Homo sapiens: one gene and its partner. The protein of the gene in region 1 purifies or fractionates together with the protein of each later gene. This does not show direct contact. Each region holds a gene or a part of one and is shown on either strand. Other genes may lie near its edges. The genes, in order: C3orf52 and LIPH.

The links.
Region 2: the proteins of C3orf52 (region 1) and LIPH purify together in Homo sapiens (affinity purification with mass spectrometry; 3 studies listed by BioGRID and IntAct, with this or other methods). This does not show direct contact.

What each region holds. Positions count from the first base shown.
Region 1 is NC_000003.12:112,105,497-112,121,387, reverse strand, and holds the end of C3orf52 (TPA-induced transmembrane protein), read right to left. Parts: intron 11,846-15,891; coding exon 11,775-11,845; intron 8,588-11,774; exon of another isoform or gene 8,490-8,587; intron 8,425-8,489; coding exon 8,243-8,424; intron 4,747-8,242; coding exon 4,742-4,746; coding exon of another isoform or gene 4,390-4,741; 3' UTR 3,178-4,389; downstream 1-3,177. UniProt on the Homo sapiens protein: Has a role in LIPH-mediated synthesis of 2-acyl lysophosphatidic acid (LPA). LPA is a bioactive lipid mediator involved in different biological processes, and necessary to promote hair formation and growth.
Region 2 is NC_000003.12:185,502,700-185,518,590, reverse strand, and holds the end of LIPH (lipase member H isoform 1 precursor), read left to right. Parts: intron 1-1,428; coding exon 1,429-1,524; intron 1,525-4,069; coding exon 4,070-4,181; intron 4,182-6,893; coding exon 6,894-7,067; intron 7,068-9,713; coding exon 9,714-9,801; 3' UTR 9,802-12,329; downstream 12,330-15,891.

The DNA of each region.
Region 1 (15,891 bases):
GAAACAAAAATCTTTTATGATGTACGGAAAAAAACCATGCTGATACAGCTGGCTATTCAGGGTCACCCAGCAGTCCTCCAGCAAGGTAGAAACACCAAATCAATGAGTTTATGCTAGAATTTTTCACATGGCCACTGGACCATTGTGGAAGTAGACTGGTTGAAATATTCTTAGTATGACATAGTAAGTTATATTTGTTTGAACCTTATCCTGTGAAAGCATTATCTGTCCCAAACAGTATATGCCTTTTATCAGGGACACATTAAATATAAATGTTTAACCAAAGAAAGTTGTTCTTATAATGTAATTATAACAGGGATTTATAAGAGGGAATTATAAGAGGGATTATGAAAGGGAATTACTTTTGAGCAAGGGGAGCCATTTGGGAGTGCTTCAAGATACCCAATATGATATACACAATTATGATTTGTCAGTCAAAAATAATATTAAGAACAAAAAAAGAGTTAAAAAATTCTGATATGAGTGTAATATACTTAATATGTAGGATGTCTCAAATTTCCAGTAAATAAATTTTAATGTCCCAAAATACCCACTATGTCTGTATGTAACACTGATCCTGTTTCCCCTACATTTCATGATTTCTAATGAAAGCTGTGCACTCCCTTTGCAGAAAATGCACATTCACATACACACACATTTGTATACGATGTGTGCGGGGGTTAGGGATGCAACCCCTCAGTGAAAGAGTCCCTGTCCCTGATAAAGAACCTGAGCCTGAGCATTTAAATTACTCTCTCGAGCCACAAATATAACCAGAAAACTCCTCCTCCCTCATGCTGGTCTTAAAACTACATAGCCAAAATTCAGAGGCACAATTTATGCCACAACTGCAGACTTTGTGGTTTCCGTTTCACGTACATACTAGCATCTATAAATAATCCCTTATTCTGTGAATAAATTCTTATTTAAAACAGAAGAGAAAAATAGGAAGAGGGCAAAGATAGGGCGGGAAAATCTGTTGACAACAAGTTGAAATGCTAACGTTTTTTAGGACAAACTTGAGTGATAGATGCTTCGGATAGTCTCAGGGATGGGGAAGGGCATGGACAGAACAGGAAATAGAAGTCTCCAGGATTCCACAAGGGCTCCAGGGAAAAGTAGATTCTGTTTCCACTTATCTCTGTTCTTTTCCAAGCCTATAGCCTCAATTCAGAAACCCACTTGATCTGAGTGTACCTTGGCTCTGCCAACTGTGAAGTGGACCAGTGTAAATTCCGTCTACTTTCCTACAGAATTCTCTTTTGCAAGGCACTTGGTGAAGCCTTGAGAGGTCATCATCATCATAGAAAGCCTCCTGCAGTCTGAGGGCCCTCCCTCTCCATTCACCCCTGACCCCTGATCACTTGTGCTCCTTAGGGATTCCCAGATGTCAGCTAAGCCTGAACTGAGCCTGCCTCTGGGGATCCTACCTGAGCTGGTGGCCATTCATAGTATGTGGTTGCCCTGTGGGCTAGGCTTTGCCCTCAACAAGCTGTGGAACTCTGGGCTGGTCCTCCCAGCTCTCCAGAATTTGATTTCCCAACTGTGAGATGAGGGAGGTGCCTTTTGAAGCTGAGTCTGTAATCTCTAGTCACAAAGGAAAGATTCAAGGATGTCTGTGGATAAAGCTGCCAACAATGCAGCAATTGTTAATTCACAATGCAGTGTAAATTAACTTATTTTAAAGCAATGAAAGAGTGATGGGAGAGGAGAAGGAGGACATTGAGAGATTTCTCCCATTTTTTCTTAGCATTGATCAGACTCTGAATAGGACAGGATTCATGTCCAGAATTCACATGTAAAAGACAAAAGAGAGAATATGTACCTCATCCTAAGAAGACACGAACATGTGTAAAGGAAGGCAAATCTTCTTATTCAAATCCCACCAGTGCTTCAGGATTCGGCTTCAGTCCTACTTCCTACAAAAAAACGTCCTCTGATTATACTGACCACTCTTTTCTCTGACCACCCGCAACCCTACTGTTTCTGTTTGTTTGTTTGTTTGTTTGTTTGTTATGGAGTTTCACTCTTGTCACCCAGGCTGGAGTGCAATGGCGTGATCTCAGCTCACTGCAACCTCTGCCTCCTAGGTTCAAGCGATTCTCTTGCCTCAGCCTCCTGAGTAGCTGGGATTACAGGCGCCTGCCACCACGCCTGGCTAATTTTTAGTAGAGATGGGGTTTCACCATGTTTGTCAGGCTGGTCTCGAGCTCCTAACCTCAGGTGATCTGCCTGCCTCGGCCTCCCAAAGTGCTGGGATTACAGGCTTGAGCCACCGCGCCCAGACTGCCTTTGTTTTTGACCCCTGGGTATTTTTTTCTGCTGTTTCCTGTTTCATCTGTACTGATCCTGACTCCTTAATAAGACTAACAGCTTCTTTTCTTATTGTTGTCTTCTCCACTAGTATCCCCATAGCCTTCCATAAAACACATCATTTTTTCAAATCTGTAGAACTAAATTAAATTGAAAGGCAAAAAAGAATCAGACACATGGCTGGAATTTTTGTTGGCAGAGGAACAGGAGCAGGTTCTGCTGATATGGCTGTTGCCATTCTATCCATATCTAAGTGACATCCAGAGAAGAGCAGTTTTCTTCTCAAATCCTTCAATTATTAAAACCTCACTATGTACCAGGCATTATGCTCATCATGATGTTGTGTGATGACCAGTAGATTTATCTCCTATAGCAGAACAGTGCATTTGTAAGGGCCGTTTTTTTTCAAACACCACCAAATATGTTAGTCACAAAGGTTAGTTTTTTCCCATACCATTTGGGCAGAAAAGTCAAATCTATGGAAAGTCCTCTCTATGACTTGCAAATGGTCAAAACCCAAGACAAGGTACTTGCATCTTGGTGCTTTCTGAACAAGAAGGGAAGAACAAAACCAAATCCTGCCTCCAGACATGAACAGGCTGTTCCTTCAAGTCCAAGCCCTTTCAGATACCAAGTCCTGCCAGAGAGGGCCTCAGAGAAAGAGGAGGGGATGGCCTCTGCCTGCTCTTGCTGGAACAGAGGGGAGAACCCAGGCCGCCCCAGCCAAACTTGGCTTGATCTTATTCACCCAGAAGAGGAAGCTGCCCTAAGGGAAATGAAAAAAATTATGCTCAACACCATTTACTGCAAAAAACAAACAAACAAAAACCCAGCCCAAAGCTCAGCCAATGGGAATGCAACAACACAGATGCAAAAATAATGTATTGTAAATGTTTTTAAATCATTCTCCATTAAAATTTTTCATTATTTTCTACAAAATACAAATACACTAAGGTTCACATTTAACATGCAGAAAATAAAGAGGAAGAAGAGAAATCCACTAGTTTCACTAGTTTAAGGAACAATCACTAAAATGAGACAATGATCTATAGTACATGTATCTTCTAGTTAAATAGGAAAGCAAATTCACATTATCCAGAGTCCTGGGTCATAAAGAACTCAAGTCAAATCTAGTCTGAGGCAGACACTCTGGCTCGTGCCCGCACACAGCTGCCCTTCACACTGACTTTAACCCAGGGCTCATTTAACTGAGAGGCGAGATCTCTCACAATACAGCACAAAACTCTTTCTCCTGGTAAATTTCTTTTCCCAACAAAACAATCAGTTCCCTCACAACAGGCAATTCTGTATCTGTAGACAACCAATACAGTTGCTAATATTCCTCCTACCCCCCAAATAGCTGGCAAAAGCTTCCAAGAGTTTATTTTCAAAGAAGAGTGGTTCTTCTTGTATCACAACCATCTGTAACAGGATACACAATCATTGCCTGAAGACACTGAGTCCCACAGGAAGGTTTGTAGCACTAGGCAACAAAAAGCCAATGCGTAATATCCAGAGCAGATATTAAACAGCCTTAATGATTCTCTAATGGAAGTTTATAAAAATATAAATGGAGTGACTATCCAAAGTGATAGTAGTGTGCTCAAAACTCACAGAGACCCATATTTCCAAAAAGGTGTTCAGGAATCACAGGAACAACGAGGAGCTGCAAAATAATGAAGAAACACATAGCTCCCGTCTGTAACTAGCTATATACATAGATTTCAAAGTAACCTTGGTGGTGTTCCTAAGGCTGGCTGGCTAAGATACTCAGGTACAGGTCATGGAAGTAGACACAGAACCACACTGCTGAGGTCTTCTAAAGTGCCTTCCTTTTCTTCACAGCCTGGCTTAGAGGTAGATCAAATCGAATGGTGGGGGGGAGGAGGATGACTTCAGTGAATAATTGGCTTAGTCTTCGTAACCTGGCTGCCTGCCTCTCCGTGCTCTACCAGCTCATGCTTACGCGATCCCACCTAAAAGAAGACAGTGCACCTCTGCACTAAAGAAAAAGTAGCCCAGGTGGGTGGAGTGCTTCAAGAATAGCAGTGCCATGATCACGCCACCGCACTCCAGCTAAGCGACAGAACGAGACCCTGTCTCAAAAAACAAAACGAAACAAAACAAAAACAAACAGAATACCAGTGACCTCCAACAGTGGGACATACCCGCTGACCCTATCGCCCCCACCCTAGCTGGCTTCCTGCCTTTGTCAAGACTGGACCCAGCTGAAGCAGTGCTCGGGAGCTGTTTTACTGGGCTTAGAGCCAGACTGTAGAATCGGGAGAGAAAGGAGTCTCCACCCCTCTGGTGTTGCTGGTGCTTCTGTATTAATCCACAGAATCTTTTCTGCAAAACAGAGTGAATTCCCTTCATCTCCAGGACTTGGTAGAGCACTGCTTTCAGACAGAGACCAGCCTCCATCACTTCATTCTAAAAAGAAAACACAGATGAACAAAAGTTACTGATTTTTAAAACCACTATTAAATGCTTACGTTTTCATTTCATTTCATTGAATTTTAGTGTAAAATCTTAGATAAAATTGCAAGGTTTATACATTCCTAACAGAGGAAATTTAGTCTTCAGTCCAACACACACACACCGCTCTGAATACATTTCAAAAGGCAAATGACATTTATTGTTTCTTGCTTATTTGTTTGGGTAGGATGCATGAGAAATAATTTTGATGATGTGGTTTTTGGGTGCTAAGGACATTTTAACATCCAGTCCCTTTTCATAATCTAACCATAAACTCTAAAATTTCCGTTTTTAAAACGTGTAAAATATACTGTGAGAAATTCTGATGAGAGAAATGGTGTGAACCCTAGGGCACAGCAGGTGCAGATGCAAAGCCCCAAGCAGACACAACACAGGGGGAGCCCGCCGGGGTCTACAGACCAGGAGTCCAGCCTCGCCACCACTGACAGGACTGACAAGATTCACTATTCTCCCTACCTGGGGCTTTTTCCTCTTCTCTCTCACAAAAATCCTGGTTTTGCCCTTTTTCCCTACTCAGTCTACTAGCTGACTCCTTCCCATGTGAGAACAGTACCAAGTACCTCCTCTGTGTCCAAAATAACTCATGATGCTGACCTATTCTTCGACCTTTGTAAAACAGACTTCCCCCTCCTAGCCCAGGGCCCCACTCATCTAGGAGGTGAAGAAGACCAAAGATAGGGAAGGGTGAGGGATGATGGACTTAAAAAATTCCTTTATCATTATATTTTAAGTTTTTATTTTTATAAGGCATCCAAATATGCATGCAGTCAGGTCAAAATAATCGCCGTATTTCCAAATTAGAGAATGAGAAGCAAACACACACAAAACCCCTCAGGAATCTAAATTACAATCTAATTTTGGATTCTGCTTCTAAAGCGCACATATACAAACCCCAAATGGACCATAGGCTGGCCTCAGGGAAATACTCGGAATCCCTGAAATTGTCTGTACAATTTTGTGTTGTGGGGAGAAGTAGGTACATTTTTTTTTCCTGGGGAGAAGGTACACAGCTGTCTTCAAATTCTCTAAGGAGCACACAAACCAAACAATTTTAAGAATCTTTGCTCTTTGAAGACTAAGAACATTACCATTGTGGGAAACTAGTTGCCTGGGTAATCACAGGGCGGGGATGGTAATCCCCCAAGCCCACAGCTCATGAGCACGTAGAAACTGGCGTAAGAACTCATTCCATCCCTCTTGGTCCCTCCCAGGGCCCTGGGCCTCTCCCTGACACATTTTCCCTTTCTCTAGAGTTTGCCTCTGAGCTCATCCCCCATCTGCCTGCATGCCTGCGATGAGTCCCTCTTCTTCTTTCCTCACTTCCCAACTGCTTCTCTGTGCACCCTTCCCTTTGAGAGGGCAGTGACACTCACATTCTGAAAACATAAAATGGCTCAAATATTGCACATTCATGCTCTGGAAAGTGGGACATGGGGTCACAGAAAACCCCACATTTTCTCAGCATGTCCCGTCAGAAGAAATGTCTGAGAGAAAGAATGCAATTTCCAGAAGAGCAGAGACTTTGTTCCACTCACAGCTGCCTTCCCAGCACCTGCTGGAGCACCAAGCCCTGGGGAAACAGCTGAGTCTCTTTGGCCAAGCTCAGGGTCTTCTGGGAGCCCTCCTCAGGTCTCACAAGCAGCCTGCCCTTTATCCTGTACTATTTGAACCTCTCAGCCTTGGAAGCCTCTTAAACCTTTCCTCAGACCTCTGCCCATCTCCCTGGCCTCCATTTGGAAAGAGCCAGTAACAATTTTTGCAAGGGGCCTAAGAAAATCAAGACCAACCACACCACAGCAGCAGCCCCCACAGGCATCGCAGGCCTCTTCACATGGGAGGAGGCTGAAGGTTTCTGGGTTTTTTTTTCTTTTGAAATGGAGTTTCACTCTTGTCACCCAGGCTGGAGTGCAATGATGCGATCTCGGCTCACCGCAACCTCTGCCTCCCAGGTTCAAGTGATTCTCCTGCCTCAGTCTCCCGAGTAGCTGGGATTATAAGCACCTGCCACCATGCCCGGCTAATTTTTGTATTTTTAGTAGAGATGGGGTTTCACCATGTTGGCCAGGCTTGTCTCGAACTCCTGACCTCAGGTGATCCAACTGCCTCGGCCTCCCAAAGTGCTGGGATTACAAGCGTGAGCCACCGCGCCTGGCTTTTTTTTTTTTTTTTTTAATTCCTGTAACTGGGGCACAATCTCTTCACTCCACACACATATAGTGTCTGCCTGACCCACAGACACACTTTATTCAGGATGCTCTGTGAGGAAGATCTCCATTTATGAGACTTCCAGTGAGCTAAAATTTGGCCTTCTGAATGGCATTCTTAAGAACTGTTTTACATAACGTTCTGCCTTCTTAGGCCAACATTACTCTTGCCTCTCATCCTCAAGAAACAGTGTCATCATCATAATAAACACCTTGTCTTGTACTATGCACTAACACTTGTGCTTTTAACCCCCTGTTCCATGCTTCTGATTCTAGACCGTTAATGCACCTGCTGCCAACCACAACTACTTCTAATTTGCCTTTCATTCATTCAACTAGTATTTACTGAGAACCTACTCATGTGGAGAAAGTGATTCTGATGGACTGTGGATGAGAACATAAAATATTCAAGATTGTTGGCATTAGGGGCTAAATAAGAGCAAACAAGCCTCCGAGCGAGGTATCAGAAAGTGAGATCAGCAGCAAAGGCCAGAGCTTCACTACAAAGCAATGGAAGGATATTTTGAGGGCTTGAAGCCATTTGGCCTTCTGACCTTCCTTTCTGTCAGGTTTTGTTCTGAGTGTCAAAAGTTCTCAGATTCTGATAAATGGGGTGTTTGTTACATTTATTAAAGAACATATCTATTTCCTTGTTCTGTTCTTAATTTTAAAAGTTGACAAGTAAATTTGTCATAATTTTCTAAGGAAAGGAATAAACTTGTCTTTGTATACCCCTCTATTAATTTCTTAATGGTCTCAGTGGCCTTCAACAGAAAAAGAAATAGGTTCCCCATATTGAGATACTCTTTCAGCAATTTAGCTGTATCATTTATTTCCAATTCTTCAATTCTTACTTCTCTTGTGAAACCACAGTATCTCCATAAAGGTTGCTAATCATGTTGTAAAGTAGGATACAGGGCTTAGAATGTGGGTGAACTGCATGAGGAAACATGTAGCAATGTTCATCTTTATAGTTGAATTATCTTTTCCATAATTGCTCCCCAACTACACTGTCTAATTATGGAGGGCACGGACTGTGTAGCCTCCACAGAGAGGGGAACATCACCTCACAGCAACACCATCTGCTGAGGGGATGAGTGAATAAATGAATAGTCTGACACAGTACCAAGTCACCACAGTTGCCAAATCGAACCAAGCCAATTTGACCCCAATCTGGTTCACCTGTTTATTGTCACAACTCTGACTTCTTTACTTGCTCTACTTACCATAGAGCAAGAGGGATGTTGGATCAAGCCCCAGACTCTCACAACCAGGTATATTCTGATCACGGAAATCCTGTAGCAAAATGCCCAGCACCAACTCCTCACTCATCATATACTTCATAAAATTTTCATCATCTGATGGAACCCCAAATTGCAGGTCATACGTTACTGTGGCATTTTCACCACTGAAAGGCAATGGAAGACATTAAAACATAAACAGCATCATACTGCAACTCAAGAAATGAATTTAAGCAATAACTTTTTTTTTTTTTAGTTTTGCATGTTCTTCCAGTACAAAATAGCAAAGAATGTTCTGTCCTGGAAGAACATACTGTCCTATAAGAATCCTCTTCCATAGATTCATCACAAAAAGTTGAGGTGATCCTAACCTCCTCCTTCCACCTAGTACCTATCCTCTAGGAATCCACTGGGAGAGGCCATCAGAGGTAGAGGTAGAGGTGCCCATCTCCAGTCAAGATGCTGAGAAGATCCCAGGCTTGACCCACCATCTGTCCCAACCCCAGCCTTCATCCCTTAAGGCAAGCCAGGGAAGCCTCCCCTTTTCTCCACACACATTCCTTCTTCATGTTCTCAGCATTGCCCCCACAAAGGTGTGCCAGGGATATTTAGTTTAACCAATTCTTTATTTGACCTATGAAAATGTTTAAGGCACAGCCAAAGTTTCCTACCATTGGCTGGGTCCAGAACTTCTGAACGTTGACAGAGACCACCCTGTGTATCAGCAACAAATCAGGCTTCCCTGGTTTGTCCCCAAAGTGAGAAACTTTTCTGTCCCATTTCCAGAGGCCCCTAGGGCAAGATAACCAAGCCCTGTAACTCTCAGTAATGGGACCTAAGGAAAGGGAATTTTCATCTTCCTAGAACATTTTTTCCCATTTCCAAAATAAAAATAATCAAGGGCTACCCTCCATTAATTAGTGTCTAATGCTACTCTTTAAATGCTACTTCAACATTTAGTTTATTCATAGTTATCCTATTACTTTGGTTTAAGATGGGCCAGATTAAGAACCAGCAATAAAATAATGAGCAGGAGGCCACATCTGAGACTATCACCTTGGGGAAGTTTTGCAGATGCACCAGTCCCATTAGTGTGAATCAGGCCACTGCCCCTGCTAAGGATAGGCAAAGAGCTCCCTCTTCTGGCTACAGGTCACATAGGCCGATACTCTTCGATCTTACAAGGTGGCTGACAATTGAGCTTATAAACTCTACTACGGCTGGGAGATGTGCCAGATCCTGCAGATCAAATGAATAATGGAGAGTCAGGACTCTGAAGAAACTCATAGTTTCAAGGATGCCACTAAAGGAGGGCCAAAAAATGCACTTTCAAACTGCAATCCAGCTAACCTAGTTTGCAGGTGTCATAACTTGTTCCCTGAGCTCTGCCCTCTAATTATCGCTAATGATGATCAACACCTACACAGCCAGCCACCCTGCATTCCCAGGGGCAAGGACTTGGGCTGGCTAATGAAGAGGGCCAGAGTCTGACTTTCAGAAGACCAGGTCAGAAGCTGAATGGGAAAATCAGGCCACCTAGCCTGGCCTGGCCAGCCCATCCTAATCCCCCATGGCAGGTCACAGGGTAAATTTACATGAGGCTGAATTTTGAGAAAAGAGCAACTTTCAGGGCCTTTCGCCCAGCTGCCCACCACTGGAGTGAGTCTAGCAGCTAATAAACCAAAGGGCATTTTTCCAGGTTCTAGCTGGGCCAGTCCAGGGCTGAGGTCACAATGCCCCTGTAGACACAAATGCATGTGCCAGGGATTTAGCCGCCTCCCACCCATGTGCAGCAGCACCCTTTGGGAAGCAATGGCTTTTCTTCCTCAATTCAATACTTTAGGACCTCTGCCTGGACTTCTTGAAATAAAGTGCAGAGATGTCACCGTAAGTACCATGTACACTGGGTCTGTTTTGTTTTGTCTTGTTTGAGTCTCTCTGTGTCACAGGCTGGAGTGCAATGGTGCGATCTCAGCTCACTGCAACCTGCGACTCCCTGGTTCACACAATTCTCCCGCTTCAGCCTCCCAAGTAGCTGGGTTTACAGGCACGCGCCACCACGTCCAGCTAATTTTTGTATTTTTAGTAGACATGGGGTTTCACCATGTTGGCCAGGATGGTCTCAATCTCCTGACCTCATGATCTGCCTACCTCAGCCTCCCAAAGTACTGGGATTACAGGTGTAAGCCACCATGCCCAGCCCATTGGGGGTCTTTAAAGAAGGAGATCAAAGGCAGCCTGCACCATATGTATCTGTAGACTTCAGGTCTGTTTGGCCCCACACCATGGTGCTACCTACCACCTGCTTTATGTGCCTCCCCTCCCAGGTCTGCTAATATTAGGGTTTGGAGAACTTATAGTTTGAAGGGGGAATCTCAATATAATACAACTTTTGATGGTCATATTCCAGAGACATCTCAGGCATAATGGATAATGAAGCTTTGATATAAATTTTAAGTCATCTCCAATAGTCCCAATGATGTAAAAGGATAATAAATGGACTCTACACACATACACCCTGATGCCTACATCTCAAGAACATTAAAGATGAGGAGGAAATTTAAAAAATAAAAAATACATATGGGTGTGTATATCCTATGTGTGTGTAGTATTTGTGGTGCCTATGGTAGATACATGAACAGAAGTAATTACACTCAACTCTTGACAGCTATTACCTCCATGGAAGGGAATGGCATTAGTTATTGGTGGTGGCAGTGGAGAAGAAAGGAGGCAGAAGGGAGACTTTTCCTGTGCATACCTCTTTATGTCTTCTTTTTTTTATTTTTATTTATTTTTATTTTTTTGACAGAGTCTCACTCTGTCACTCAGGCTGGAGTGCAGTGGCGCAATCTCGGCTCACTGCAACCTCCCCTCCCGAATTCAAGAGATTCTCCTGCCTCAGCCTCCTGAGTAGCTGGGATTAGAGGCACCCACCAACACACCTGGCTAATTTTTGTATTTTTAGTTGAGACAGGGTTTCACCACGTTGGCCAGGCTAGTCTTGAACTCCTGACCTCAAGTGATCTGCCCGCCTTGGCCTCGCAAAGTGCTGGGATTACAGGCGTGAGCTACCACGCCCGGCCCCTCTTTACATCTTTAATACTAAACAAGGAGAATGTACTCCTGTATTACTTGTGCTCCTCAAAAGCAAATGCCTATACATGTATCACTCGCATCACAGCACGACCTGAGATCTATTTCTACTTCTACCCTTAGCTTATTTGAGCATTCATTGTTAAACAGAAATGGTTTACCTGGGACTGGCTTTTCCCCTCTTCTGTGTGACCCTGGTTGAATTATACCATTAATCTGGGCTTCCTTTTTCTCATTTGTAAAATAAGGGAGTTGAGCCTGTTGGTGTAAAAGACCTTCCCAGCACTGACATTCTGTGATTCTATTACAGGTTCCCTTCATGCTCTGAGGCTCTGGGAATCCCTGCTAGGTAAATGACGAAGGGTGGGGTGGGGGGATCTCTTTCCAGAGAAAGAGAGCAAAATGTAATGTTCCACACTCTTACCTGAAGTCCACTATTTCAACTGAAGTAAAATAACGACCCAGAGAGGGCGATGTACTGTACACATCTGTGAGCTAAACAAACAGAAGCAAATTAAACCACACACATTACCGACAGATCATATTACACATCACCTGACAAAGCAAAACTGCTTCTAAGGCAGAGGAGATTCCACTCCAGCCTGGAATCAACGTTATCTGGAAGCTCTGGATCAAGAATTGAGCCCACCATAAATCAAAACTCAAGTTAATGCTACTTCAAAAGAACTCCATTTATAAGGACCAAATGACTCAGTTTCTCTCAGAAGTTGCACTGGCACCCTGTGGCCTTAGTGGTGAGAATATCAGCAGCTGGAGCCCACACAGGCCTCACAGACCATAGGAAGGAGAGAAGAGAAGACCCCAAAATGGCTGCTGGACAGCAGCAGCACAGACCACTTAGCACCTGGGACATTGCTTAGCCCAGGGCTTCTTTCTCCCTTCTCCAGAGCTTCAGTGTAAAGACAAACAGCCATGCTAAGCCATGGGTCTAGCACATCCCCTGGACAAAGAGACAAAGAGGGGAACTGCAAAAATATGGAGGCTTTATTTTATGCATGAAATATTGCAAGCATCATAAAAAATAATGACACCTGTGTTTCCACTACCTAGCTTTCATGTCTTCATATTTGCTATATTGGGTTCAGCCCTTTAATTTAAGAAACAAAATAAAGCTAAAGTGACTCCTACATACTATTCAGTTCCTCCTCTCTCTCTTTCTTAATACTAACCATCATTCTGAAGCTGGCATGCATCCTTTCCTTGCATATTTTTACAAATTACTACTTATTTATGTAATCATAACAAAATATAATTTGTGTTTTTATTCAAATAAAAGGCACCATATTCTACATAATCTTCTAAAACTTGCCTTTTTTCACTCAAAATTACATTTAAGATTTACCCATAAAGTAAATCTCAATGAAAGGCATTCACCTAACTCCTGCACAGATTCCTTTAAATGAGTATACCAGCCTATCCATTCCTCTGATGATGATCACATGCACTATTCTCAATTTTCCCCATCACAACTTATGCTGAAGCAATCATCCTTAATGTCTCCATGCATCTCTTCTTGGACATGCGGGAGTTTCCAATGGGCATATGCCAAGAAAAGGAATTGTTGGGTTTAAGGGTAGGTGCATCTCCAACTTCACAAAATTGTTCTCCCTTTCCCACCCCTCCCAGCAATGTATAAATATCCATTTCCCACATCCTTACCAGCACTTAGTGTTACCAAACTTAAATTTTTACCACTCCGAGGAGTATAAAATAGTGCTTCACATTGTTTTAATTTGTACTGCCTCGCTTACTAGTGAGGTTGAACATCTTTTCATGTTTATTAACTCTTTGGGACTTTTCATCTCTGAATTTCTCACTCATTTCCTTTCCTTCTCTTGGCTTATCTGTCTTTTTCTTATCTATCTGAAGTGGTTAGTTTTATATTCTGGATACTAGTTGTTGATATTATGTTACAAGTATCTTTTCCCAGGCATTGAGTAGTTGTGTTTCAGATATCTGAATCCTAAACTAGTAGTACTAGGAACATGTGCCATCCCCAGCTACAGCCATTATGGCTTAATGACCTATTACTTTATTCAATAACAAGCAGTCGAACATACAAAAAACAGCAGTGCCCTATGGGGAGCTTACCCTGTTTCCCCTCAACTCCAAATGGAATGTCAAGGACGCTGCACTTCCACAATACACTCCCATTTAACTCAACATGTACAACCCATATCTCAAAGAGAACAAAAGATGAGAGTGCCTGCTATTTCTGCTCTTCTAATCTTGTCACTACTGTTGTGATCTTTATAAAAACCTGGCAAAACAGGCATTAATATATCTCCCCTTTTTACTGGAAAATTAAACAGCACTCCATTCCATGAGATGAAGAAAACCTGTCCCAGGTCACTGTGCTAGTAAAAGGAGAAGCCAAAATTCAATCCTACATGTTATGAACACTAAAAACCAGCTTCTTCCCATCTGACCACACTACCCAGTGAAGAAGAAATTGATATATATACAGTGAAGGAAAGTGTCTCCTGAATATCAAGGAGGAAAGAAGCTTAAAGTGACAAAAACTTTCGGAGAAAATGACTGAGTCATTGTACAGCTCTTAAGCCCCAATGCACAGGATGTTGCCGATAGGCTGACAGTCATTTAGAAAACTCGGGAACTAGGAAAGCAGCTTTCACGGGGATGCTGTGATGGAGAGGAGGATGAGGATGCTGCAGAGGAGAATCTTTTCAAGCACTAATGTCAAGCACTCATGTCTTTCTCTTCCTTTTGGATTGAGCTTCCTATGGCAAAGGTGATATTTATCCTTCCTTCCAGTCTTCTCTGCTTCCTCCTTCCCTTCTTTCCTTTATTAATCTTTAGGGCCCAGCACAGTGTTTTGCACATAACAGGCTTTCAGCAAATTTTTAAGTTAAAATTTTAAGGTAACATATGGAGTGGTCGACTAAATCATTTTTAGTGTTCACTCGAAGATTCTTTTTGATCATGCTCCTCTGCTGTACTTAGGACATATTTACATTTGGGGAGCTGTTAGTCACACTGTCCACTTTGGGCCCAAAGAAGTGAAATAGGGTGGTTCCTCAACCCTTAGTCTTGTGTCTCCCACACAATGTCTATGAGGCTTGGTGCAAACTGAGCAAGGAGCTCAGCGAATTGATTAGCTGAGTCTGATGCAGTGGCTAATTAGAGACCAGCTTCCAGAATAAGGCAGGTGCCATCATTAACTCCTAACCCATGCACAGGGTGTGGTAGTCACACAGGCTGGCTTAAGCAGAGTAATGGCCCCAACCCTGAGAGGAAAACACTGTGGCAGTGACACATGGCAGGGCCTGTGTTTAGAAAAGTCAAGGGAAAGGGCATAAAGTTCCAATACTGTGATATAATAACAATATGTATACTGTTTAGTCTCTGCCCCAGTTCCTGGCACAGAATTCCTAAAACCCTTGTTACTTCCTGAGTGACAGGGGCGCCGGGTACATCTTTTACTCTAACATTTGGTCTTTACTCCAGCTCCTGACACAGACCTGCTCCTAAATCTCTTGCAGTTTCCTGGGTTATAGGAGTGTCTTTATTTCTGATGAGGCAACTCTTGGCGGGCTGCTGGATGGGGGCTGATCATCAGAAAGACCAAGCCGCAGCTAGAAGCTTGGAACTTTCAGCCAGTGTGGTGGAGTGGGATGGTGCATGCGTGTAGTCCCAGCTACTCGGGAGACTGAGCAGGGAGAATCGCTTGAGGCCAGGAGCTTGATATCAGCCTAGGCAATATAGTGAAAACTGTCTGGAGAAAAAAAAAAGAAGAAGAAGAAATCTGAAGCTTTTGGCCCCACCTCCACCCCCATCCTCCAGAGGGGAGAGAGGCTGGAAAGCAAGCTAATAATCCACCATGCCTATGTGAGGAAATCTCCATAAAAATCCCTAAAAGACAGAGTCTGGAGAGCTCCCAGGTGGCTGAACACATTTACAAGGGAGAGTGGCACACCTGAAAGGACATGGATGCCCACATTCTGTCCCACGTGTCCGCCCTATGTACCTTTTTATCTGGCTTTTGATATCCTCTATTTTCTACAGTGTGCCCATAAATGTGATGCTTCCCTGAGCTCTGTGAGCCATTCTAGCAAATGACCAAACCCAAGGTGGGGGTTTTGGAGACCTCCAATTTGCAGCTGGTTGGTCAGAAGCACAAGTGACAACCTAGACTTGTAACTGAACTGGCATCTTTTTTTTTTTTTTTTTTTGGAGACTAAGTCTCGCTCTGTTGCCCAGGCTGGAGTGCAGTGGCACGGTCTCGGCTCACTGCAAGCTCTGCCTGCCGGGTTCACACCATTCGCCTGCCTCAGCCTCCCGTAACTGGCATCTTAAATGAGGGAAGTTTTGTGGGGCTGAACCCTTAAACTATGGGGTCTGCACTAACTCCAGGCAGATCATGTCAGAATTGAACTGGATTGCAAGACACCCAGCTGGTGGCAGATAATTGGTTGGTGTGGAAAACACACACACACACACACACACACACACACACGGCCAAAGAAGTGTTCTGCATTGAATGTGGGTATAGAGAAAAA
Region 2 (15,891 bases), about 73 Mb from region 1:
AAAGCAATGTAGACTGGGCATGGTAGCTCACGCCTGTAATCCCAGCACTTTGGGAGGCTGAGGTGGGCGAATCACAAGGTCAGGAGTTTGAGACCAGCCTGGCCAACATGGTGATATCTCATCTCTACTAAAAATACAAAAAAATTAGCTGGGCATGGTGGCGGGCGCCTGAAATCCCAGCTACTTGGGAGGCTGAGGCAGGAGAATCACTTGAACCTGGGAGACGGAGGATACAGTGAGCTGAGACCGCGCCATTGCACTCCAGCCTGGGCAACAAGAGTGAAACTCCGTCTCAAAAAGCAAACAAACAAACAAAAGAAAGAAAAAAGAAAAGAAAAGCAACTGTAGAGTATTCCATCCAGAAGGCAGTACAGCCTCCCTGGACCCTCTATTCTAGCATGGAAAAGAAGGTTACAGAAGAGTTTCCAAGCTTACCCAGGGTACAGTCACTCTACGTAGCCTGCTCCTGTGGGGACAGGAATACCCTTTCTGTGCTTACAACCTCTCTGCTGGGAGAGGGTCCACAATGAGCCCAGAGACTCTCCTGACAAGTGAACTTTTTCACAGACTCATGTCTATGTAAATGCCCTCACTCCACATTCTGGCTCTTGTGTGCACGTACAGCAGGTGGAGTGAGGTAATAGATATTGTGGAGGCTGCTTGGATATTCGCTAGGGATTAGTACAGATATTCTAGGTGGTTAGGACTTTGAAACTGGATGGTCATGAGGATTTTCTATTTTTTTTCCAAAAGGAAAAATCCAAGTTAACAACAGGGCATGGTATAGACAAGGGGTTCTCAACCTTGATTGTGCTTTAGAATCACCTAAGGAGTTTTAACACAATACTGATGCCTGGGTCCCACCCTGGATCAATTAAGGCAGAATGTGAAGGCCATTCTCTAGGGCTAGGGACAGAGGAGAGAAAGAGGGCCCTCTGGACAGCAAAAACAAAGGAGGACACTCACCTGCTTAGTGACACAGTCAGTCATGTGGCAAGCCCAGGTCTATGCAATTTAGGGGCCCCATTGTAGTTCTTCAAGAAAGCATATTGGTTTTCAAGAGTGATGCTATTTTAGGTATGAACTTGAATCTGTTTTAATCTAGAAAATGAATGTATTACTGAAAAATGTCAGTGTTATTTTTAGTCCACACCAGTGTGTGCCACACCCCACACCTCTCCACCCTGCTACTGAGAACCAGTAAAGGGGGAAAACAACTGGAGGGTCCTGTTGCCCTTCAGCTCTTAGGGACAGGGTTGGCCAGCAAGATGGGTCACCCTGCAGGCCCTCACCATGGGGGATGGAGGTGGGATGGAGTTTCTCTCAGAAGTGGTGGATACAGTCAAACTCAATGTTCTTGCTACCTCAGTTGCTTTTATGTTTGTATAATACATATTAATCTTACAATTTTTTAAACTTGTTTCATAGGCTATTATGCTGATAATTGGAAAGACCATCTAAGGGGGAAAGATCCTCCAATGACGAAGGCATTCTTTGACACAGCTGAGGAGAGCCCATTCTGCAGTGAGTGGTGAATGTGGTTGTTGGCTTTTGCCTAACTCTCATTTTGGGGATGGCTGAGTCTCAGCTTCCTGGCTACTTCTTGGCAAATAAGAGCCATGATGAAGCATCAACTTTGGAGCTGGAAGGGCCTCGGTTGACTCCTGAGTCTACCACATAATAGCTGTGGGACCTTGGTGAAGTCATTTGACTTCTCTGAGTCTCAATGTCCTGACTGGTCAAATGGGGGTAATAATGCCTGTATTCTGGGATATTAGGTTTAATCTGATGCCATTTAAAAATATTAATTTAATAAAATCTCAACAAATCAGAGTTGTTAGTTTCACTGGATGACCATTCTAATCACTAAGATCTTCCAGAAAATTGCTTGATTCCCCAAAAGACATAAAATTAAGACTAGGAAAAATCAGGTGTCAGCCATATCTACAGGTCAGTTCCAGCTCTAAAGCAAACATGATGACCCAAAGGCCTCGAGAGGTTGAGTATTCCAGATGGGAATTAAAGGGGGCAGCCAATGATTAGACGCCTTGGGAAGCAACTAGAATTTCCTTGGGCAGATGTGTTTTTCCTACAGTCTTGTACCCATTTTCACTTTCCTTGGGAACAACTATTTTATTTCATTTTATTTATTTTTTTTGAGACAGGGTCTCACTCTGTCACCCAAGTTGAAGTTCAGTGGCGCAATCTCAGCTCACTGCAATCTCTGCCTCCTGGGTTCACGCGATCCTCCTGCCTCAGGATTCCGAGTACCTGAGACTACAGGTGTGCATCACCATGCCTGGCTAATTTTTGTATTTTTAGTAGAGACGGGGTTTTGCCATGTTGGCCAGGCTGGTCTCAAACTCCTGACCTCAGGTGATCTGCCTGCCTTGGCCTCTCAAAGCGCTGGGATTACAGGCATCAGCCACCATGCCCAGGCTATGTTAATTTTTTTTTGAGACAGGGTCTTGTTCTGTCACCCAGGCTGGAGTGCAGTGGCACAATAATGGGGCACTGCAGCCTCAACCTCCTGGACTCAAGCAATCCTCCTGCCTCAGCCTCCCAAGTAGCTGGGACTTCGGGCATGCGCCACCATGCCCAGCTAACTGTTTTTTTTGTTTCTTTTAGAGACAGAATCTCACTATGTTGCATAGGCTGGTCTTGAACTCTTGGGCTCAAGCAATCCTCCTGCCTTAGTGCTGGGATTACAGGTGTGAACTTCCATGCCAGGTGTGAGCAACTCTTTTAAAAGAGCCTGGAGGCTAAGCATGGTGGCTCACGCCTGCATTCCCAGCATTTTGGGAGGCCAAGGCGGGCGGATCACTTGAGGCCAGGAGTTTGAGACCAGCCTGGCCAACATGGTGAAACCCCATCTCTACTAAAAATACAAAAACCCCAAAAACAAAATATAAAAATTAGCTGGGCGTGGTGGTGCTTGCCTGTAATCCCAGCTACCTAGAAGGCTGAGGCTGGAGAATTGCTTGAACCCAGGAGACAGAGGTTGCCGTGAACCGAGATTACGCCACTGCACTCCAGCCTGGGCAACACAGAGAGATTCTTTTAAAAAAAAAAAAAGCCTGCAGATCACTGGGTTTCCCTCTTTCTTTGGAGCCATGTGTGGCAGCCCAGGATTTGGCACCTACCTGGTCTGTATGGGGCAAGCCCCTGAGCAAGTTGGGCCATAAAATGGCAAATCCAGGACTGACCTTATTCCTTCGTGGGACTGTCATCTCCCTGATTAGTTCCTGTTGTAGCGTGTTTTAATTTTATCTTTTTTTTTTTTAAAAAAACCCATAAGACATTATTCAGGTAACATTTGTATAGATGTACCCACATATTCACCACTTTTTTTTTCTCTGAGTCTGCTGGTTAGGGAATGCCACTTTATTTTTATTATCACCCTTTCTTGCATTTTGTAAATACAGGAAAGTGTGCTGAATAATAATGGGGAGAGTCCAGAGTATGGCAGGAACTTCAAGAAAGGAGACCTGACTTAGTCTGGGGGTCAGGAAAAGCCTTCTGGAGGAATGACATTAAGTTGAAACCTAAAAGGTGGATTCACAGAGCTGGCAAAGTAAGCGTGCCCAGGTGGGTGAAGGCCCAGGAGCCTTCACAGTGCAGGGAGTGCAGGTGGTGGAGCATGATTGGGAGAAGGATGAGGAAGGCTGAGTAGGCTGGTGGACTTGGCCCAAACTGTGGAAAACCGTCTCAGCCCTGGAGGGTCTCCGAATGGCCCCTTAGTTGGTTGAGTCTAAAATGGGCAGGAATTGATGTGAACCACACTCAGCCATAAGCCCTAAGACTTCACAATACCTGGAAACACTGGTTCAACGATGATGCCTGACCATGGTGACTGGAAACCAATGAACTCTGCTATCACTCATGCCATCTTTACCAAAGAGAAGAGAAGGGAATATTAGAAACTTCTGCCCTGGATCTTTGCAGAGAAACCAGAGAGAAAGAGAAGAAGAGACTCAGTGATTAGGGAGGTTCAGTTTTTAGGAACCAGCCCTTCAGGGGATCAGTTGGTAGTATCTCTCTCTTACCGTGTTCTCTCTCTGTTTTGCAGTGTATCATTACTTTGTGGATATTATAACATGGAACAAGAATGTAAGAAGAGGGGACATTACCATCAAATTGAGAGACAAAGCTGGAAACACCACAGAATCCAAAATCAATCAGTAAGTTGAGTTACAATTGTTTGCAGTGCGCTATTTCCCTTTTTGCTCAGAGAAATTAAATCACAAATCCACCTACTTTCTTATTTATAGATCTATGCTTTTCCTTGTTCTATAAAAGATATAAGGGGAACTATTGCTTAGTTGCTTCCCTGGTTCTTGATCTCCCAGGGTCTTTACAAATGGGATTGGTGCAAGGGTTTTCTTTCCTTCCCTCCTTCTCTTCTTCCTTTCTTTGCTTCCTCCCTTTTTCCTTCCTTTCCTCCCTCTTTCCCTCTCTTTCTCCCTTTGTTCCTCTCCTCCTTACTTCCTTTGATTAAACATGTAATACAAAAGTTATCCTTGTTTTCGATAAAGGATTTAAACAACAAATGAATATGCTGATTTAATTATCCCACATTGTATACATACATCAAAACATCTCAGCTCACTGCAACCTCCTCCTCCCAGGTTCAAGCGATTCTCCTGCCTCAGCCTCCTGAGTAGCTGGGACTACAGGCACATGCCACCATGCCCAGATAATTTTTTGTATTTTTAGTAGAGACGGGGTTTCACCGTGCTGGCCAGGCTGGTCTCAAACTCCTGACTTCATGATCTGCCCGCCTCGGCTTCCCAAAGTGCTGGGATTACAGGTGTGAGCCACCGCGCCTGGCTGATTTCCTTCATTTTTAAGGCTGAGTAATATTTGATTATATGCATATACCACATTTTGTTTATTCTTCCATCAATGAACACTTGGGTTGCCTCCTCCTCTTGGCTATTGTGACTAGTGCTGCTATGAACATGGGTGTGCAAATGTCTGAGACTCTGCTTTCAATTTTTTTGGACTTGTATCCAGAAGTGGAGTTTCTGGATCATATTGTAGTTCTCTTTTTAATTTTTTGAGACACCACTATACTGTTTTCCTTAATGGTTGCACAATTTTCCAATCCCACTGATGGTGCATACAGGATCCAGTTTCTCCACATCCTCACCAATATTTGTTATGTTCTATTATTTTGATATTAACCATCTGGATGGGTGTGAGATGATTCTGTGTCTTTTGAACATTTACATCTTTTTTTTTTTTTTTTTGAGACAGAGCCTTGCCCTGTCACCAGGCTGGAGTATAGTGGCCTGATCTCGGCTCACTGCAAGCTCCACCTCCTAGGTTCAAGCGAATCTCCTGCTTCAGCCTCCTGAGTAGCTGAGACTACAAGCGTGAGCCACCATGCCCAGCTAATTTTTATATTTTTAGTAGAGACGGGTTTTCACATGTTGGCCAGGATGATCTCGATCTCTTGACCTTGTGATCTGCCTGCCTCAGCCTCCCAAAGTGCTGGGATTATAGGCATGAGCCACCGTGCCCGGCTTCCATCACTGTTTAAAACACTTACTAACTTTCTGGCACACGGGTTTCCAGGATCACTTTGCACGTTTCCTGCCCCAGCCATGGAATCAACCATTTCTCCAGGGAGCTCTGGTTTCTTTCAGTAGAGATGGTGTTAAGAAAACAAAATCTGGGCACCTCTTAGATTAGTTTTATTTGTGGCACTTCTGTACTCCATGGGACTTAGACATGATCCCAGTGGGGTGACAGATACCTCGTCACGATTACCCCATTCCCAAAGTAAGGATTAATGTTGGGTAGGCTCGGTGGCTCATGCCTGTAATTCCAGCACCTTGGGAGGCCGAGGCAGGCGGATCACCTGAGGTCAGGAGTTCAAGACCAGCCTGGCCAATATGGTGAAACCCTGTCTCCATTAAAAATACAAAAATTAGCCAGGAGGGGTGGCAGGTGCCTGTAATCCCAGCTACTCGCGAGGCTGAGGCAGGAAAATGACTTGAACCCAGGAGGCAGAGGTTGCAGTGAACCGAGATCACACCACTGCACTCCAGCCTGGGCAACAGAGCAAGAATCCATCTCAAAAAAAAAAAAAAAAAAAGGATTAATGTCTAGAGCAAGCCTTCTGTTCCCAAAGCCAGGGGCTCCATGGTTCTTCCACCTCCCCAGAAAGACAGTGAGTGAGCTGAACCTCTCCAGTGATATGCCTTACCTTCAATTTGGTTTTCCACCTATAGAAAACATCTCTATACACTTGGATAACAGGATCAGACTCTGGATTTGCCTTTTTTAAGGTTCATCTTGAGAGGGAGAACTAAAAAAAATACATGCTACAGCACAATTCAGTTAGCATCTATTTTGGCTAAAGATATACTTAGGCATCTAGGGATGCAGTTTAACGGAAAGATCATAACTTTGAACTCAGCCAGAACTGGGTTGGAATCTCTTCACTGCTACATATAAGGCCTGTCACCTGGGGAGCTTGATCTCTGTAAGCATCTATTTCTGTCTATTAAATGAGGAGAATAATGCCCCCCTTGCGGAATGTTCTGGGGAGTTGGAGAGATGAGTCGAGAGACAAGGACATCATCTGGTGTGTACTAGGCAGTCATTAGCATCGTGCCTCTCTAATGTCATTTTGGGTCACTTACATCGCCCTTTGGAGTCAGCAGACTTTGCCCATCAAAGTTGACTAGTTCTTGGGTGGTTACTACACTCCAGCCTGGGCAACAGTGTGAACCCTGTCTCAGAAAAAAAAAAAAAAAAAAAGTCAGCTGGTGCAGGCTATGGGGTGAAATAGTTACCAGCTTACCAGTGACTTGCAGGCTTCAAAACTGCTTTCTCTCATTAGTAGTCTTTATCCATTTTTCAGTATTACTTCTTCCTTCCAGTGAACCCACCACATTTCAGAAATATCACCAAGTGAGTCTACTTGCAAGATTTAATCAAGATCTGGATAAAGTGGCTGCAATTTCCTTGATGTTCTCTACAGGATCTCTAATAGGCCCAAGGTACAAGCTCAGGATTCTCCGAATGAAGTTAAGGTCCCTTGCCCATCCGGAGAGGTGAGCTGAGGGTACGGTTTGACAAAACGCTGTTTTCCAAAGATGTTGCTGGATCCTGTCCAATCTGCTTGGTCTGATGTGTTAATAAGACTCTATTATTCACAATGAGGGACATGATGGGTTTTCCAAAAATAGTTTTTATTATAAACAAGTAGCCCAGGCCAAGTGTAGTGGCTCAAGCCTATAATCTCAGCACTTTGGGAGGCCAAGCTGGGAGGATTGCTTCAGCTCAGGAGTTCTAGCCAGCCTGGGCAACGTATGGAGACCCTGTCTCTACAAAAAAAGAAAAAAAAAACAACCCAAAACAGAAAGCAAGTGGCCCAGCCCACCTGCATTTGATGGTACATGACTGTAATCCCACTACTCAGGAGGCTGAGGTGAGAGGATCACTTGAGCCCAAGAGTTGAAGTCCAGCCTGGGCAACATAGCAAGATTCTATCTCAAAATAAAAACAAAAAATTAAATAAAAAATTTTAAAAATAAAAACAGGTAGCCCAGTAATCCAAGAAAATTATACTGCATGTACTTAAAGGTAGATAAGGTAGATGGCCTAGTAATCCAAGGAAATAATGTTGTTATATGCTTAGAACTATACAGTTCTTCCCTAACTACCACACTGCTTGTAAGCTGGTAATTTGTTGTAGAAAAGAAAGCTTTGGATAATTTGGCAAGCTGATTAAACAGAGCCTAGTATAAAAAAAGGTACAGAAAATTGGAACATTTTATTCCCTTGACCACAGGCACGTCCACCACACCCAGCTAATTTTTGTATTTGTGATTTTGTATTTTTAGTAGAAAAAAATATTTTCGTATTTTTAGTTTCGCCATGTTGGCCAGGCTGGTCTTGAACTCCTGGCCTCAAGTATCCGCCCGCCTTTGTCTCCCAAATTGCTGAGATTACAGGCATGAGCCACTGTACCCTTGACAGTACAAAAGTATTATATTGAATTTCTTAAATTTGATAATGGCACTGAAAATGTCCTTGTTCTTAGGAAATATACAATGAAGTATTAAGGAGTAAACAATCTATTCTCAATTGTGCCAGAAAAAATAAACAATGTATGTTTGGGGAGAGAAAGAGAGAGAAACAGAGAAAGAGGGCGAGAAGGAGAGAAAGAATTATTATTTAAGTACAGAGCTGTGTTGACATGTATGTTTTGTGACAAATGCCAGTCTACCATATAGTCCTAGCATCTAACCTGTGGACAGAGAGGGAGACAGGAAATGATGTGAGTAGTTAGTACTTTGTGAATTCCTTTTTCTTAAAAGTTTAGGGACTGAACACGGTGGCTCATGCCTGTAATCCCAGCACCTTGGGAGGCCAAAGTGGGCGGATCACCTGAGGTCAGGAGTTCTAGACCAGCCTGGCCAATGTGGTGAAACCCCGTCTCTACCAAAAATATAAAAAATTAGCTGGGCAGTGGTGGTGTGCACCTGTAATCCCAGCTACTCGGGAGGCTGAGGCAGGAAAATTGCTCGTATCTGGGAGGCAGAAGTTGTGGTGAGCCGAGATCGTACCACTGCACTCCAGCCTGGGTGACAGAGTGAGACCCTGTCTCAAAAAAAAAAAAAAAAAAGAAAACAAAAAAAGAAAGTTTAGGGTACCTTAAAACATTTAATAGTACAAGTTTCTCCTAAGAGGATAGTCATTACATCCTAAAACTTTTTAATACTTTTTTTGCCCTGAATATCAGACAATATATGTTTATTTGACAAAATCTAGAAAGTACAGAAATTGTCAGGAAACAGAAAAATATCACCCATATTGTCATTATTCAGAGGCAACCACTGCTAATATTTATTGTTATTTCTATATAATCTTCCTTTCTTTTATTGTTTTTAAAGCTGAACTTACATGGTAAATACAATTTTACATCTTTCTTTCTTTTTTGGTACGGAGTCTCGCTCTGTCACCCAGGCTGGAGTACAGTAGTAGCGCGTTCTTGGCTCACTGCAACCTCCACCTCCTGGGTTCAAGCAATTCTCCTGCTTCAGCCTCCGAAGTAGCTGGGATTACAGGCACACGCGACCACGCCCAGCTAATTTTTTGTATTTTTAGTAGAGACAGTGTTTCACCATGTTGGTCAGGCTGGTCTCCAACTCCTGGCCTCAGGTGATCCACCCGCCTTGGCCTCCCAAAGTGCTGGGATTACAAGCGTGAACCACCGTGCCTGGCCATATATCTTGCTTTCTCCTTGGTGTTTTACTTACCATAAGCATTTTCTTTCTTTTTTTTTCTGAGACAGAGTCTCATTCTGTCACCCAGGCCAGAGTGCAATGGCGTGATCTCAGCTCACTGCAACCTCCACCTCCTGGGCTCTAGTACTGCCTTAGCCTCCTGAGTAGCTGGAACCACAGACACGCACTACCACACCCAGCTAATTTTTGTATTTTTAGTAGAGACGGGGTTTAGCCATGTTGGCCAGGCTGGTCTTGAACTCCTGGCCTCAAGTATCTGCCCGCCTCGGCCTCTTAAAATGCTGGGTGGGATTACAGGCATGAGTCACCGTGCCTGGCCACCGTAAGTGTTTTCTATATTAAAAACAATTGCTAAATAATTTTGTATCTTAAGGATATAATATTATTTACTAGACCATTGCATTTTTATAAATTCATTTACAAGGATATTTTGTCTTATTTTCCCAGGCCTCAGCTGTGTCGGTATGATCTTGTCCTGATGGAAAACGTTGAAACAGTCTTCCAACCTATTCTTTGCCCAGAGTTGCAGTTGTAACTGTTGCCAGGACACATGGCCATAAATAATAGAAAGAAAGCTACAACCACAGGCTGTTTGAAAGCTTCACCTCACCTTTCTGCAAGGCAGAAAAAGTATGAAAAAAACCAAGGCTTTTTTCAGTAGCGTCCTATGGATGTCACATTGTACATCAAACAACCTTGTGATTATAAAACGATCCTGGGAAGGAGCCCCTAACTAGGGCAAGTCAGAAATAGCCAGGCTCGCAGCAGCGCAGCGCTGTGTCTGCTGTGTCCTGGGGCCTCCCTTGTTCCGACCTGTCAATTCTGCTGCCTGTCACGCGGGTGGTTCTGCCCATCGCGGCTGCGGGTCAAGCATCTTCAAGGGAAGGACGGACTGGAGGCCTCACCGTGGACTCAACTCTGCATTCTCCGTGCCACATTCCTCCAGTTCCCACACGTAGAAGGGAACGAAACTGACGTCTACCTCATGGGGCTGCTGTGTGGGTTTGGGAGGCAAAAATCTATGAAGGGTTTTTTGAAATCCCATAGGTGCCACATCTATGAGATGTTTGATAAATGTGAATATGCTTTTACATTTGGGCTTATCTAATTTGCAATAAGAGAGCCTCTCTCTATCAACACCAGCTTCTCTCTCGGGCTGTTTGCTCAGGGAAGGCAAGAAAGCCACGTGCTGGCCCTCTGCCTTCTCTAAAGTGCTGTTGGAGCATGGAGGAGCTGGAGGAGATGGGGATGGACTGACAGCTAAGAGGGCGGCTGCTGGGACTAGATAGTGGATGAAGAAAGAAGGACGAGGAAGCCGTGGGGCAGCCTCTTCACATGGGGACAGGGGATGGAGCATGAGGCAAGGGAAGGAAAAGCAGAGCTTATTTTTCACCTAAGGTGGAGAAGGATCACTTTACAGGCAACGCTCATTTTAAGCAACCCTTAAGAAATGTTTATGTTTCTTTATTACCAATGTAATCTATGATTATTGAAGGAAATTTAGAAAATGCGTAGATACAAAATTAAAAAAAAATACTGTCCACGATCCTATTAGAGGTAATTAATGTTAGCCTTTTGGAACAAGGCTGTCACCTATTTTGCCAACACGTGAATTCAAAACATGAACCGGTTTGCTTTTGGAGAATCTGAAGACTCCAGTTTGAGGAATCCTTTGCTTCCCTGGAGGTAGATGCTGTCTGCAAATCTAGAATGACAGCAGGAGTCCAGTCAAGAGGTCCTGTCAGGCCAAGGCCAGAAAGAAGGGAGGACAATCCCTGGGGCCAGATGCCCAGTGTGAGGGGAGGCATGATCTGTCCCATGGCTGTGGCCACTGCAGGAAGGTCTGTGAAAAGGAGGTGACAGGCCCAGTCACCTCCTCTTCACCCAAGTGATTGCTCCTTCAACTGCTATCTGTGAAAATAGCCTTTGTTATGAAGAAATTGACTCTCTCTCTCTTTTTTTTTTTTTGGAGTTGCCTAGGCTGGAGTGCAATGGTACGATCTCAGCTCACTGCAACCTCCACCTCCCAGGTTCAATTGATTCTCCTGCCTCAGCCTCCTGAGTAGCTGGGATTACAGGCATGTGCCACCACACCCGGCTAATTTTTGTATTTTTATTAGAGACAGGGTTTCACCACGTTAGCCAGGCTCGTCTCGAACTCCTGTCCTCAGGTGACTACCCGTCTCGGCCTCCCAAAGTGCTGGGATTACAGGCATGAGCCACCACACCCGGCCAAAAATGGATTCTCTATGTCATAAATTAAAGAAATCTATAAATGTATTCCTGTGTGGCACATCTTCTTACAGATTTACATTTGCAGCAAATACAGAGTCTGTTTTATTTAAGTGAGGGATGACTGAACTCTGAGTGGAACAAGCTCTTGGACATGTTACCATCCTTCCTCCTCCTTCTCACATTTCCTCAGCAATTGTGGATAGAGAGATCAGTGTGCTGTAGGCCCTGGTTTTTTTTTTTTTTTTTTTTTTTTTTTTTTAGATGGAGTCTCCTTCTGTTACCCAGGCTGGAGTGCAGTGGCACGATCTTGGCTCACTGCAACCTCTGCCTCCCGGGTTCAAGCAATTCTCTGCCTCAGCCTCCCAAGTAGCTGGGATTACAGGCGCCCCCACCATGCCTGGCTAATTTTTGTATTTTTAGTAGAGACCTGGTTTCACCATCTTGGCCTTGAACTCCTGACCTTGTGATCCACTGGCCTTGGCCTCTCAAAGTTCTGGGATTACAGGTGTGAGCCATCGTACCCGGCAGCCCTGGTTTCTTCTTAGTTTTATTGGTCTGTGTTTTGATCAGCACAGTCACTTTTTTGTTCTCTTTCCTGGTAAGCAGGGAGTCAAAACAATAGCAAGAAAATGCCAGAAATAGAATTTCTACTACTTTGTAAACTCTAGGCTCGTGGGTCTCCTAGCTCTCAGTACCTGGCTCACTGTAGGATGGGTAGATGGGTGAATGAATGGATAAAGAAAGGAAGTTTGTTCACCGGAGAGGAGATGAATTTCAGTAAGTTTCATGTAACAGTGATCAGGAGAAATAAAGGCAGTTATAACTGTGGCCACTCTGTTCTCAGAATCTTTCTTCCAAGGGCCCCTGGAACTTTTGACTGTCTCTTGTTATCCTTGCTTCTCTTCCCCTCTCTTTCTCAGTACCATATATCTGTCTGAGTGCCAAATTCAAAGCACAATTAAATTACAGTCTACCCTCTTCCCTCCCCTCTTCACTGGTGACCTCCTACTCATCATTTGGATCGTGGCTCAATTGCCACCTCCTCAGGGAGTCTTCTTGGACCTTATTTCCATACAGAGAGGTTCCACACTGTACCTCTCCTTCATAGCACTTTTTAGTTGTATTTTTAAACATTTTTTCTTTTTTTTGAGACGGAATCTCACTCTGTCACCTAGGCTGGAGTGCAGTGGTGCAATCCTGGCTCACTGTAACCTCTGCCTCCTGGGTTCCAATGTTTCTCATGCCTCAGCCTCCCAAGTAGGTGGAACTACAGGCCAGTGCCACCATGCCCAGCTAATTTTTGTATTTTTAGTAGAGACGGGGTTTCACCATATTGGCCAGGCTGATGTCAAACTCCTGACCTCAAGTGATCTGCCTGCTTCGGTCTCCCAAAGTGCTGGGATTACAGGCGTGAGCCACCGCACCCAGCCTGTTTTTTTTATTTTATTTGCCTGATTATTTGATAAATATCTGTCTTCTCCACTAGACTGCTCTGCAAGGCAGGAGCCATGTGCTTACCATATAGTCTGCTTTCAGGAAACATTTATTAAATGAACACTCTTTGTTATTTTCTGAGCCCCATGGAACCATGTTCAGTTGTGAGTAAAGACTTGCCCTCCACCCTAGCCATAGTCTGTTTCCATGAGGGTGCCTAACCTTCTGTGCCTTAGACTTTTCTCCCAGACACCTTCATTACTATTGTCTCCATTATCTTTGGAGGCCAATAGCCCATTTCCCAGACTTCCTGGAAAAGAGAGAAGTTGGCTCCTTTGTCACTTTTTTTTTTTTTTGAGATGGAGTCTTGCTCTGTTGCCCAGCTGGAGTGCAGTGACCTGATCTCAGTTCACTGCAACCTCCACCTCATGGGTTCAAGCTATTCTGCCTCAGCCTCCCGAGTAGCTGGGCTTGCAGGCACATGCCACCATGCCCAGCTAATTTTTGTATTTTTAGTAGAGACAGGGTTTCACCATGTTGGCCAGGCTGGTCTCAAACTCCTGAACTCCGGAGATCTGCCTGCCTTGGCCTCCCAAAGTGCTGGGATTATAGGTGTGAGCCACTACACCCTGCCCCTTTGTCACTTCTTATCACATCTTCCAGGTGGTCCCAACACCTCACAAGCTCACCTGTCGAAAATCTAGGGGATTTTGTCCTTACATCCTCATTTTAGCACCATTGCCAAAATGCTCCAGGACCTTACAACATTAGTGGAGGATGCCAAGCTGTAGTTATAACCCTCCCTTGTTTGCTTTTCCATGACTCTCCTTTCCACCACTCACTTTGCTGCCAACTTCGTATGTTGTATTAGTCCCTTCTCAGGCTGCTATGAAGAAATACCCAAGACTGGGTAATTTATAAAGGAAAGAGATTTAATTGACTCACAGTTCCACATGGCTGAGGAGGCCTCAGGAAACTTACAATCGTGATGGAAGGGAAACCAAACACATCCTTCTTTACATGGTGGCAGGAGAGAGAAGAATGAGAGCTGAGTGAAGGGGGAAGCCCCTTATAAAACCATCAGATCTCATGAGAACTCACTATCACGAGAATAACATGGGGGAAACTACCCTTATGATTCAATTACCTCCGACTGGGCCCCTCCCACCACAAGTGGGGATTATGGGAACTACAATTCAGGATGAGATTTGGTGGGGCCACAGTCAAACCATATCATACGTGCTTCTGTCACTGCTGTTACGCTGTGTTGTAATTTGTTTCCGTGTCTTTAACTCCTCCAAGACTGTGACCTCCACAAGAGCAGCTGCTATTTATTTTTGGCTCTCTAGCACCTAGCACAATGCTAGGCACAGAGTAGGTGCTTGATAAATGTCTGTTGGACAGAATGGAATGGATGATGCTTAGAAACTTGAGGGAATCACCTCCATTCTGACTTAGACATCAACACACTTAACAATGTTATTTCTAAAGTCCTAAACTTAGAACCTCCTACCCTTGGGCTCCTGCCCCTTGCTCTCATTCCTATAGAACTCCATTATAGCCAAGGAGACTTTGGATGCAAGGGACAGGAATCCACTCACACCCCAATTTAATAGGTTATTGAGAGAGAGAGAGAGGACTTGTGGAAACCCAGGAAGAGGTGATCCACCAAATCTCAGGAAGGGCAGGGATGGGGCAGCCCTAGAGCCTTCAGCAACAAGAGTTCGTGGGCCTTTATTAACCCTAGTGCTCTGCCATGAATCTCTTTGACTGAGCTCAGCTCCCTTCATGGGGCAGCCTCATTGGGTTCTTGGCCACTCACTGACTAGGTGGCCCAATTCCAAAGTCCAGGGACAGGAAACAGCCCTTGGCTCCTCCTCCTGAGGAAGACATCTATCCAGTTCCAATCAGTCATGGTTGGGGTGGGGGTGGGGAAGCAAAATCACATGGACTTCAGAGCTATTCTTTTCAAGTGCTCTAGGCAAGTCTGATTAAGCCAGAAAAGGTTGGCTGCTCTTCACAAAGAGGCACAGTAAATGCCAGGCTAACTCACTCCCACAGGAACGTCTTACCTGTTCTTTTCTCCCACCTGTTTCCCAATCCAGCATGTGCCTGGGAAAGGACTGCAGTTGACAGAGGATTGCAGCTGTCCTTTGTCAGACTGTGTGGGCCTGTGCTGTAAATGAGTGGCCTCGATGGGGGCTGCTGCAGCCTGCGGGAGGTGCACTGGGTGGTTAGAGTCAGCTCTGCAGGTACTGGGTTGGGGGCCAGGAGGGTTGGGAATACTGAGATTGGGGAAACACAGTCCAGGGCTTCTTCCCTAGGCAGACAGGTTGAGCGAGAAGAATGACAACATGAGTCCAGGGGGCAGGTCAGAGGAAGCAAGCAGATGCTCCAGTTGTGAGCCTGTAGCAAAGAAGGTTAGCACCACCAAAAATAGCTCCATCAAAGGTCCCTTATCGCCTCGTGTTGGCCAATTGCCATGACCCTCAGGTTTCCCTGCTGGGTTTCTCCATGGACTCTGACACTTGCCCCAGTTCCTTTCCTAACAGTCTTTCTTGGGCTCTCAGGACATTTCTTTTTTTCTGTTTCTCATCTCACAAATGAAACAGTGCATCTTGTTCTCTTTCACTGTTTCCACCATTTCCTTACCAGGCTCCTGATTTCAGTCTTCTTTCTCAAAAGGGTAGTGCATGGTAAGACATTTGGGCTCTGCTGTTTGCGAGGTGTGTGACCTCTGTTGCTCTGTTGACTTCATTCTTCCTAAGCTTCATTTTCCCAGGCTATAAATGTGGGACTGTTAAGAGTTCCTACTTTAGACCGGGCATGGTGGCTGAAGCCTGTAATCTCAGCACTCTGTGGGGCCAAGGCAGGAGGAACACCACAGGCCAGAAGTTCAAGACTAGCCTGGGCAACACAGTAATACCCTGTCCCTCAAAAAAGAGTTCCTACTTAA